Homo sapiens: one gene and its partner. The protein of the gene in region 1 interacts with the protein of each later gene in a pairwise test. Each region holds a gene or a part of one and is shown in the gene's direction. Other genes may lie near its edges.

What was found.
Region 2: the proteins of ATL2 (region 1) and ARL6 interact in a two-hybrid assay, tested with the Homo sapiens proteins (one study listed by BioGRID).

Annotation. Positions count from the first base shown.
Region 1 is NC_000002.12:38,370,507-38,374,429, reverse strand, and holds part of ATL2 (atlastin-2), read left to right. Parts: intron 1-3,923. UniProt on the Homo sapiens protein: Atlastin-2 (ATL2) is a membrane-anchored GTPase that mediates the GTP-dependent fusion of endoplasmic reticulum (ER) membranes, maintaining the continuous ER network. It facilitates the formation of three-way junctions where ER tubules intersect.
Region 2 is NC_000003.12:97,762,424-97,766,346, forward strand, and holds the start of ARL6 (ADP-ribosylation factor-like protein 6), read left to right. Parts: upstream 1-2,334; 5' UTR 2,335-2,554; intron 2,555-3,567; exon of another isoform or gene 3,568-3,666; intron 3,667-3,923. UniProt on the Homo sapiens protein: Involved in membrane protein trafficking at the base of the ciliary organelle. Mediates recruitment onto plasma membrane of the BBSome complex which would constitute a coat complex required for sorting of specific membrane proteins to the primary cilia.

The DNA of each region.
Region 1 (3,923 bases):
ATGGTATTCTGATTTTGTAGACATTTTGGGTTTTCAAAGTCCAGGTGTATTATTTACTTTCTAGAAAATTTGAGAGTTATTTACTTTAAGGAATGTAGATGTGAACATAGAATAACTGAACTTGATTCCACAGTGAATTCATTACTTTAGTAGTTTTCTTCCTATCCGTTAGTCCTCCACACAGCACATGATACACAACACTCGAGGGCTTTCTCTATGGCTTTAAAAATGGATAGCAGGCTGAGTGCGGTGGCTCACGCCTGTAATCCCAGCACTTTTCGGAGGCCGAGGCAGGTGGATCACCTGAGGTCAGGAGTTCGAGACCAGCCTGACCAACATGGAGAAACCCCCTCTCTACTAAAAATGCAAAATTAGCTGGGTGTGGTGGCGCATGGCTGTAATCCCAGCTATTTAGGAGGCTGAGGCAGGAGAATCGCTTGAACCTGGGAGGTGGAGGTTGCCGTGAGCCGAGATCATGCCATTGCACTCCAGCCTGGGCAACAAGAGCGAAACTCTGTCTCCCCCATAAAAAGGATAGCAGGAAGAAAGTACCAACCTGAAAATATGATGGCAATAGGATAATACTTGGTAGATATTATAGAAAGAAGTAGAACAATTAGTAAAGGAAGTAGAACAATTCTGTTTGTTATGGTCATGGAGAAGCATGAAGTATTCAGAAGTGCAAAGCCAAAATAACTTTTACAGATGATTTTCCAAGTTATGGAACGTGTCTCTGTGTGCTTGGGTATATACACATATTGCTAAACTTGGATACAGTTTTTTAAAAATGTGTGTATTTAAGTAGCCACCTTCACTACCTACTCTGAGACAAATGGCTGTGTGGTGTATGGTCGGATGATAGTTACTAGAAACAACTTTTAAGTCATAAAAGACTAACATCCTCTGTTTTCCCAAGGAGATAATATGTACTTTTGATTGACCTTGGATTTGGTCTTCGGACCAGTACAAGTAGAATGTAGGGGATTCCCTTGCTAAGCTACTAGCTTAATAAAAAGTATTCATACAACTCCTGTTCATACAACTTTATGATTGGTCCCCAAACAACCACTTAGAGGCTAGCTGGATATCCTGCTGGCCAGTAACTCTAATAACTTGTTGGAGAAGTATGTAACTGGTGAAGAATACTTATCTAGGTTCTCTAGTAACATTTTATCTTTTATTGCAAAGATGCTCTGATTGTGGCGGCAATGCTTCTTTAATCATAGGGAGGATAATGTAGTGGGAAAAGAATGAGGAATCAAATGAGTGATTTCACTTAAGCTCTCAGAGCCTGGAGCCCTCATATAAGGTAGTGATAATCCGTAACAAGGCTGTCGTGGGAAACAGATGATAGGGTGCAAGTGTTTTGTAGTACTTTAAAGTTTGTAAAACTGTCTTAAGGCACAGTAACATATATGTAAGAATGTACCAGTGTGACTACTTGTGTTATTATGCTATTATATATAATGTGTATATTTGCAATAAAAAGTTATAATTTTTTCCTGTGGACAGAGATTTAGTTTGGGCAAGGGTGGTAGGCAAGTTTTAAATTTTAGCTGTAAAATGCTGATAATATGTTCATGATAGGGTTATTGTAAGTATCAAATGTGTTAAAAGTGCTTAACCCACTGCCAAATATTCTGTCGGAGGTGGTTATTACCATAATGGGTGGTTATTTAAGATGAGACTTTGAACTAAAAAGTAATTTTCAAAATAGGCAACTTGGAAGGTGTTTGTTCAGTTATTAACATAAGATGTGATCATTCATGCTTCTTAGCTATCTTCATTTTAATAAATGTGCATTTTAGACAATCCTGTGGCAAAGTAGTTCTTCTGGAATTGTTTATTTCAATTGCAGGATTTCATATGAGTTAATTTCATAGTTTAAGGTTATGGCAGTTTCCAAGTACAGTTGTCCCTTGGTATCCATGGGAAATTAGTTCCAGAACCTCCCTCTGATGACAGAATTCAAGGATGTTCCAGTCCCTGGAACATGGTATAGTATTTGCATATAACCTATGTGCATCCTCCCGTACACTTGAATCTCTACACTATAATACCTAATACAATGTAAATCATTGTTATACTGTATGCTTGGGGAATAATGACAAGAAAAAATTGTACATGTTCAGTACAGATGCAGTTAAATAATTTTTCTATTCCTGGTTGGTTGAATTCATGGATGTAGAACCCATAGATATGGAGGGCTGACTTGACTGTATAGTGCATTGGCTTTTCAAACAGTAAATCTGCAAAATCTAACTTGGGTCTGTTATGCACAGGATTGCCAAAAAAAAAAAAAAAAACAATTAACATGAAACCATACTAACAGTGAATCTCATAAAAACCTTATTTTTCCCTTCATTTAATCCTTTAGAATAGAGTCATGGACAGTGATTAGAACTACATCCATCTTTAACATTTTAACTTGAGTTCTGCAAACTTCCTATGATTTTTGAAATGGATTTAGAATGGAGGCTTGGATTTTAATACTAGGTCTATGATGTTTTATTTTTATGTATTTATTTATTTTGAGACAGAGCCTCCCTCTGTCACCCAGGCTGGAGTACAGTGGCGTGATCTTGGCTCACTGCAATCTCCACCTCGTGGGTTCAAGCGATTCTTGTGCCTCAGCCCCTGAGTATCTGGGACTACAGACGCGTGCCACCACGTCCAGCTAATTTTTGTATTTTTAATAGAGACAGGGTTTCACCATGTTGGCCAGGCTGGTCTCGAACTCCTGACCTCAGGTGATCCACCCACCTTGGCCTCCCAAAGTGCTGAGATTACAGACATGAGCCACCGCACCCTGCCTGGGTCTGTAATGTTTTTCTGTAACATTTTTTTTTTTCCTTCCCAGTGGTTAATATCTACCCTAGCAAACTTACAGTAATTTTTTTAAAAATTTTGTTTTGTTTCTATGTTTTTTGAAACGAGGTCTTGCCCTGTTGCCAAGGCTGGAGTGCAGTGGCGTGATCACCGCGGTTTTGACCTCCCTGGCTCAAGTAATCTTCCTGAATCAGCCTCTTCAGTAACTAAGACTACAGGAGTGTGCTACCACACCTGGCTAGTTTTTAAAATTTTTTGTGGAGATGTGGTCTCCCTGTGTTGTCCAGGTTAGTCTCAAACTTCTGGACTCAAGTGATCCTTCCATCTCTGCCTCCCAAGTGTTGGGATTACAGGCATCAGCCACCACACCCAGCCATTTCTTTCTTTCTTTTTTTTTTTTTTAATTAAAGAGATAAACCCTATAAATGCCATTTAGAAATTTGAAAGCCTTCTATAAAGAAACTCCTCAAAGGAGGAAAGTTGGCATGGTAAATGGAGAGCTTTTTAAAAATTTCAGTGAATGAATTTGTGGGATGCCAAAAGTTGGTTTAATTTCACCTTTATCAGAATGGGGGAGTTGATTTTTGCCATTTCCTAATCTTTTTTATCTTTTTGTATTTTTTTCCTTATTTTTTTCCCCCCCGAGATAGGGGCTAGCCTTGTTGCACAGGCTGGAGTGCAGTGGCTCAATCATAGCTCGCTGCAACCTTGAACTTCTGGGGTGCACCCCCCACCCCCGCCATTTCAGCTTACTATGTAGCTAGGTCTACAGGCTTGCACTACCCTGCTGGGCCAGGGGTTGATTTTTTTGTTTTGTTTTGTTTTGTTTCGTTTTGAGATCGAGTCTTGCTCTGTCACTCAGGCTGGAGTGCAGTGGCACAGTCTTGGCTCACTGCAACCTCCACCTCTGGGTTCAAGAGATTCTTCTGCCCCAGCCTCCCAAGTAGCTGGGACTACAGGCACCCGCTACCACGCCTAATTTTTGTATTTTTTAGTAGAGACGGGTCTTACCACGTTGGTCAGGCTGGTCTCAAACTTCTGACCACAAGTGATCCGCCCGCCTTGGGCTCCCAAAGTGCTGGGATTACAGGCAT
Region 2 (3,923 bases), on another chromosome or scaffold:
GTCTCACCCTTTTGCCCAGGCCAGAGTGCAATGGCACAATCTCAGCTCACCGCAACCTCTGCCTCCCCGGTTCAAGCGATTCTCCTGCCTCAGCCGCTTGAGTAGCTGGGATTCCAGGAACGTGCCACCACACCCGGCTAATTTTTGTATCTTTAGTGGAGATGGGGTTTCACCATGTTGGCCAGGCTGGTCTTGAATTCCTGACCTGGTGATCCACCTGCTTCAGCCTCCCAAAGTGCTGGGATTACAGGCGTGAGACACCGGGCCTGGCAGCCTTTATGTTTTTTTAAGTTTAATATTTTCAAGGCTAACATTTTTTTCTAGATTATTTTACTGCTTTATTTCATAACATTTATCTCTAGTAATAAGCCATCTATCAACTATACTTATCTAAGATAACGATTTGACTAGCTACATTTTTGTAGAAGAATTATCTATCTGCCTTGTTTTCCTGAAAAGTTGGATGCTCAATATGTCCATTTTATTTCCAGTTTTCACCAAATGTTTTATATTAAGCCAAAAGAGATGAACTCAACCTAGAGGCAGAAAATATCAACTTTTAGCAGGAAAAATTGAGTCTGTCCATGAAAGTTTTCTGAAATATAACATTTCTGCCGATCGCTAAGAAAAAAAAATGTTATATTTTGGCCGCAAGCACATTAGCTTCCATCTCTTACAAGTAAGTCACAACACCCAGGCACACAGAAAAGTGTTCAACACCTCCCTGTCAATGCATTCACGATTAGAAGTTCAGAAGTTAAAGAACCACCATAGTTACGGTTTGGGTCAATTTTGTTTACACAATAAAAAGCTCAAGACAAAAGAAGACAGGACATTATTTATTGAACAATAAATATGTGCCAAACATCTGTATTTCTGTTATCTTTAATACTCAGAACTACCAGATAAGATAAATACTATATTTTTGAAGGTGAGGATAGAAGCACGGAGAAGGGTAAATTGGGCTAAGACCACACAGTAAGAAAGAATGTATTTCCATACTCCATTTTTACAAGGACATTTATATGTTGATATGCATCCATAGGGTCTTTGTTTTGTTTTTGTCTTTCAACAAGAATCACTAATCCAGAGCCGCTTTTGTTTTTTCGCTGTAAAAATGACAATTACATTTGGAAATTTGGAGAAGTGACAAAAGATAAATCACCCCATAATCACACGCTTACAACCGTCCCCCCTACCATATTACTTTGAAATAATTCCTTCTAGTCTCTTTTTGCACCCTCCTAGTCCATTTAATAGGCCAAATGAATTGACAGGCCAAAGAACAGGCAGTGCAGTAAACATACACTAGCTAGTTGAAAAGGGTCGCGCGGTGGGGGGCAGGGGGTCGGAAATCCTACACCCATGCAAACAAAAAAAATGAAGAGATACAAACCCCTATTTGAAGAATGAGGCCATTCGCTGGGGGTGAGGTTAGTGGAGTTGGGCAGATTGAAAGGCTAGATCTTTAAAATGACTGCATCTGTAATGTGTCCGTTGGAAAACGCAGTAATAAAAGATGTGGGGAAGGGTATGCCTAAATATTTTCTATTTGAAGACCATTTGTGACTATGACTATAAAATCCAAGTGCAATTTAAGAAGGTGGTCAACTTTAAGTATTGACTATTAATACCTTTCCTGACCACCTGCCGATTTGATTCTGGAGACTGTAATCTACTCACAGGAGATTATGCCTGGTAGAAATCTCTTCGGGAGACCACACAACTAAGAAGCAGGGGTACAGGCATACTTTATTAGCCGAATAACACCTTTTGACTTTTTACACCAGTTCTCCCCTCTACCTTCCTGTATTAACAGTTTTACCTCTACAGGGACTCAGGGTGGGAGGCCTATCAGAACCCAGAGAAGAGTCGGTGCGATGGGCAACTGGGGAACTCCGGCGCACATCTTGCCCCAGGGGGGACAGTATCGTCTTGCAGTCGTTGCCACAACGCTACGCTGGTGCCCGGTAACGACACTCTCCGCGCCACACCCAGCGCCAGCCTCTTGGATCCCCAGGAAGACCAGGGCCGAGCGACAAACACGCAGCACACGCGAACGCCAAACGCTTCCCAGAAAGCTGTGCGCGAGCCTACAACTCCCATGATGCTACGCCGGGAACTGCCCGGCTCCTCGCAGGAAATAGGCAGCTCACCCTGCCACCTGTGCACACATTTTTCTTCAATGTATAGTTCCTCGGCGCGCCTCTGACCTTTTCCCGGAGCTCTTCAATCCCAGAAGCTATAGCACAACGGCTGAATCGCCAGGACCCCCGGGGAGGCGTGGCTTCAGGACCGGAAGAAGCTCCTGTTGCCAAGGGAACGGTGCCTGCCAAGGCGCCTGCTCAGCGACTGATGCACAGACTGCTGCAGAGGCTGCCGGTTTTCCCAACTTCTAGAGACGGCTTTGCTCATTACCAGGCATCCTTCCCATGTAGGCATCGAGAAGAAGGCTGAGGGACCCTCGCACCAGATTTCCATCCCGGAGACCGATACGAGTGCGTCCATTCCTGTTGCCAGCTCCTGCGCCCTCCGGACTAACCTCAAAAACCAGGTATCTCCTCAACGCCGGTTTTTAAAGCCAGCGCCACCCTCTGTCCCCGTCAGTTTTAGAATTCCTCTTTGGTCTTTCCCATGTTTTTCACTCCACGCGTGTAGTTGTTGCTAATGTATGAGAAGTAGAAAAGAAGGTGAGTTATAGAGGCCCTAGAAAACTTACTAAACTGGTTTGGACGTATGTTTGGTTGATGGGTTTTAACAATGCTCAACTTAGACCCGTGTATTGGGGGTGTGTGTGTGTGTGTGTGTGTGTGTGTGTGTGTGTGTGTAAGTGTAATTTAAATTATATCATAAAAAACTGAAAGCCGAATAAGAATGTTTATTTGGGGTAATAAAAGTAGGCAACATTTCAATCAACAAACACTTTACAGAGTTTACTAAGTATCATTCGTGGTGTTTTCTCTGGGCTACCACTCTGTCTCTGCAGCTTACCCTCTAAGCTGTTAACTGTGGATAACATCCTAATTCTTCTGGACTTCTCTGGCAATATGTAATCCTTTAGGAAACAGTCTGTCAGACAATAACCAAGAGAATTTGGCTGGTGTGCAAAGAGAGGGTTACAGTAAGATAAGAAACAAGAAAGGAAGATTGGAGCCAGATTGTGGACAACCTTAAAAGCTGTGCTTGGAAGTTTGAAACTACTGGCTTTATTCTGAAAGCCAGTAGTTCTCAATAGTAACTTCACATCAGAAACACTGGGTAGCTTTTAAAACTACAGATGCCCTGATCTTATTTTCAAAAATTCGGATTCAGCAATTGATTTCAGAGTGCAGCCAGGGTTGAGAATCATGGCTATCAGAGTAGGAAGCTGCAGAAAACAGTTGTGTCTCTCGCTGCACACTTAAGACACGATTAACAAATATTGACTGGCTTCAATTATCTTTTATTTATGCATGCAGAAAGTCAACTTATGGAAGGAAAATTATAACTACTTGAAACGTAGAAGTTTAAAGGCTCTATGATAGTTGTTTATAAAGCAATTTCAATAAATGTGATTACCTCTTTTAGAAAAACTGCCTGCTCTTCTAAATTGTGTGTCCCAAAATATTTCATTAACAAGTATCAAGTGATAATCCATGGAAAAGTGATGGAAAGTCACAATACAAGGTACTGTGAAAAACGAATATTCAAGCATCAGGCTTTAAACACTCAGTGCTTTATAGTAGATGCTTAAAGGGGGGAAAATGTGAGAAGTTGTCGTTTTTAAAACATAAGTTCTAAATTATGAAATGGAGAACAAGATATAAGCATTTATATCAATATGTTTATGCAGTAAATAAAGTGAGTAATAGCAAATTTACTTTGAAATCAAATGGTATGTGTGAATTGCTTCATGACATCAGAAGGTTAATTTAAAATAGATT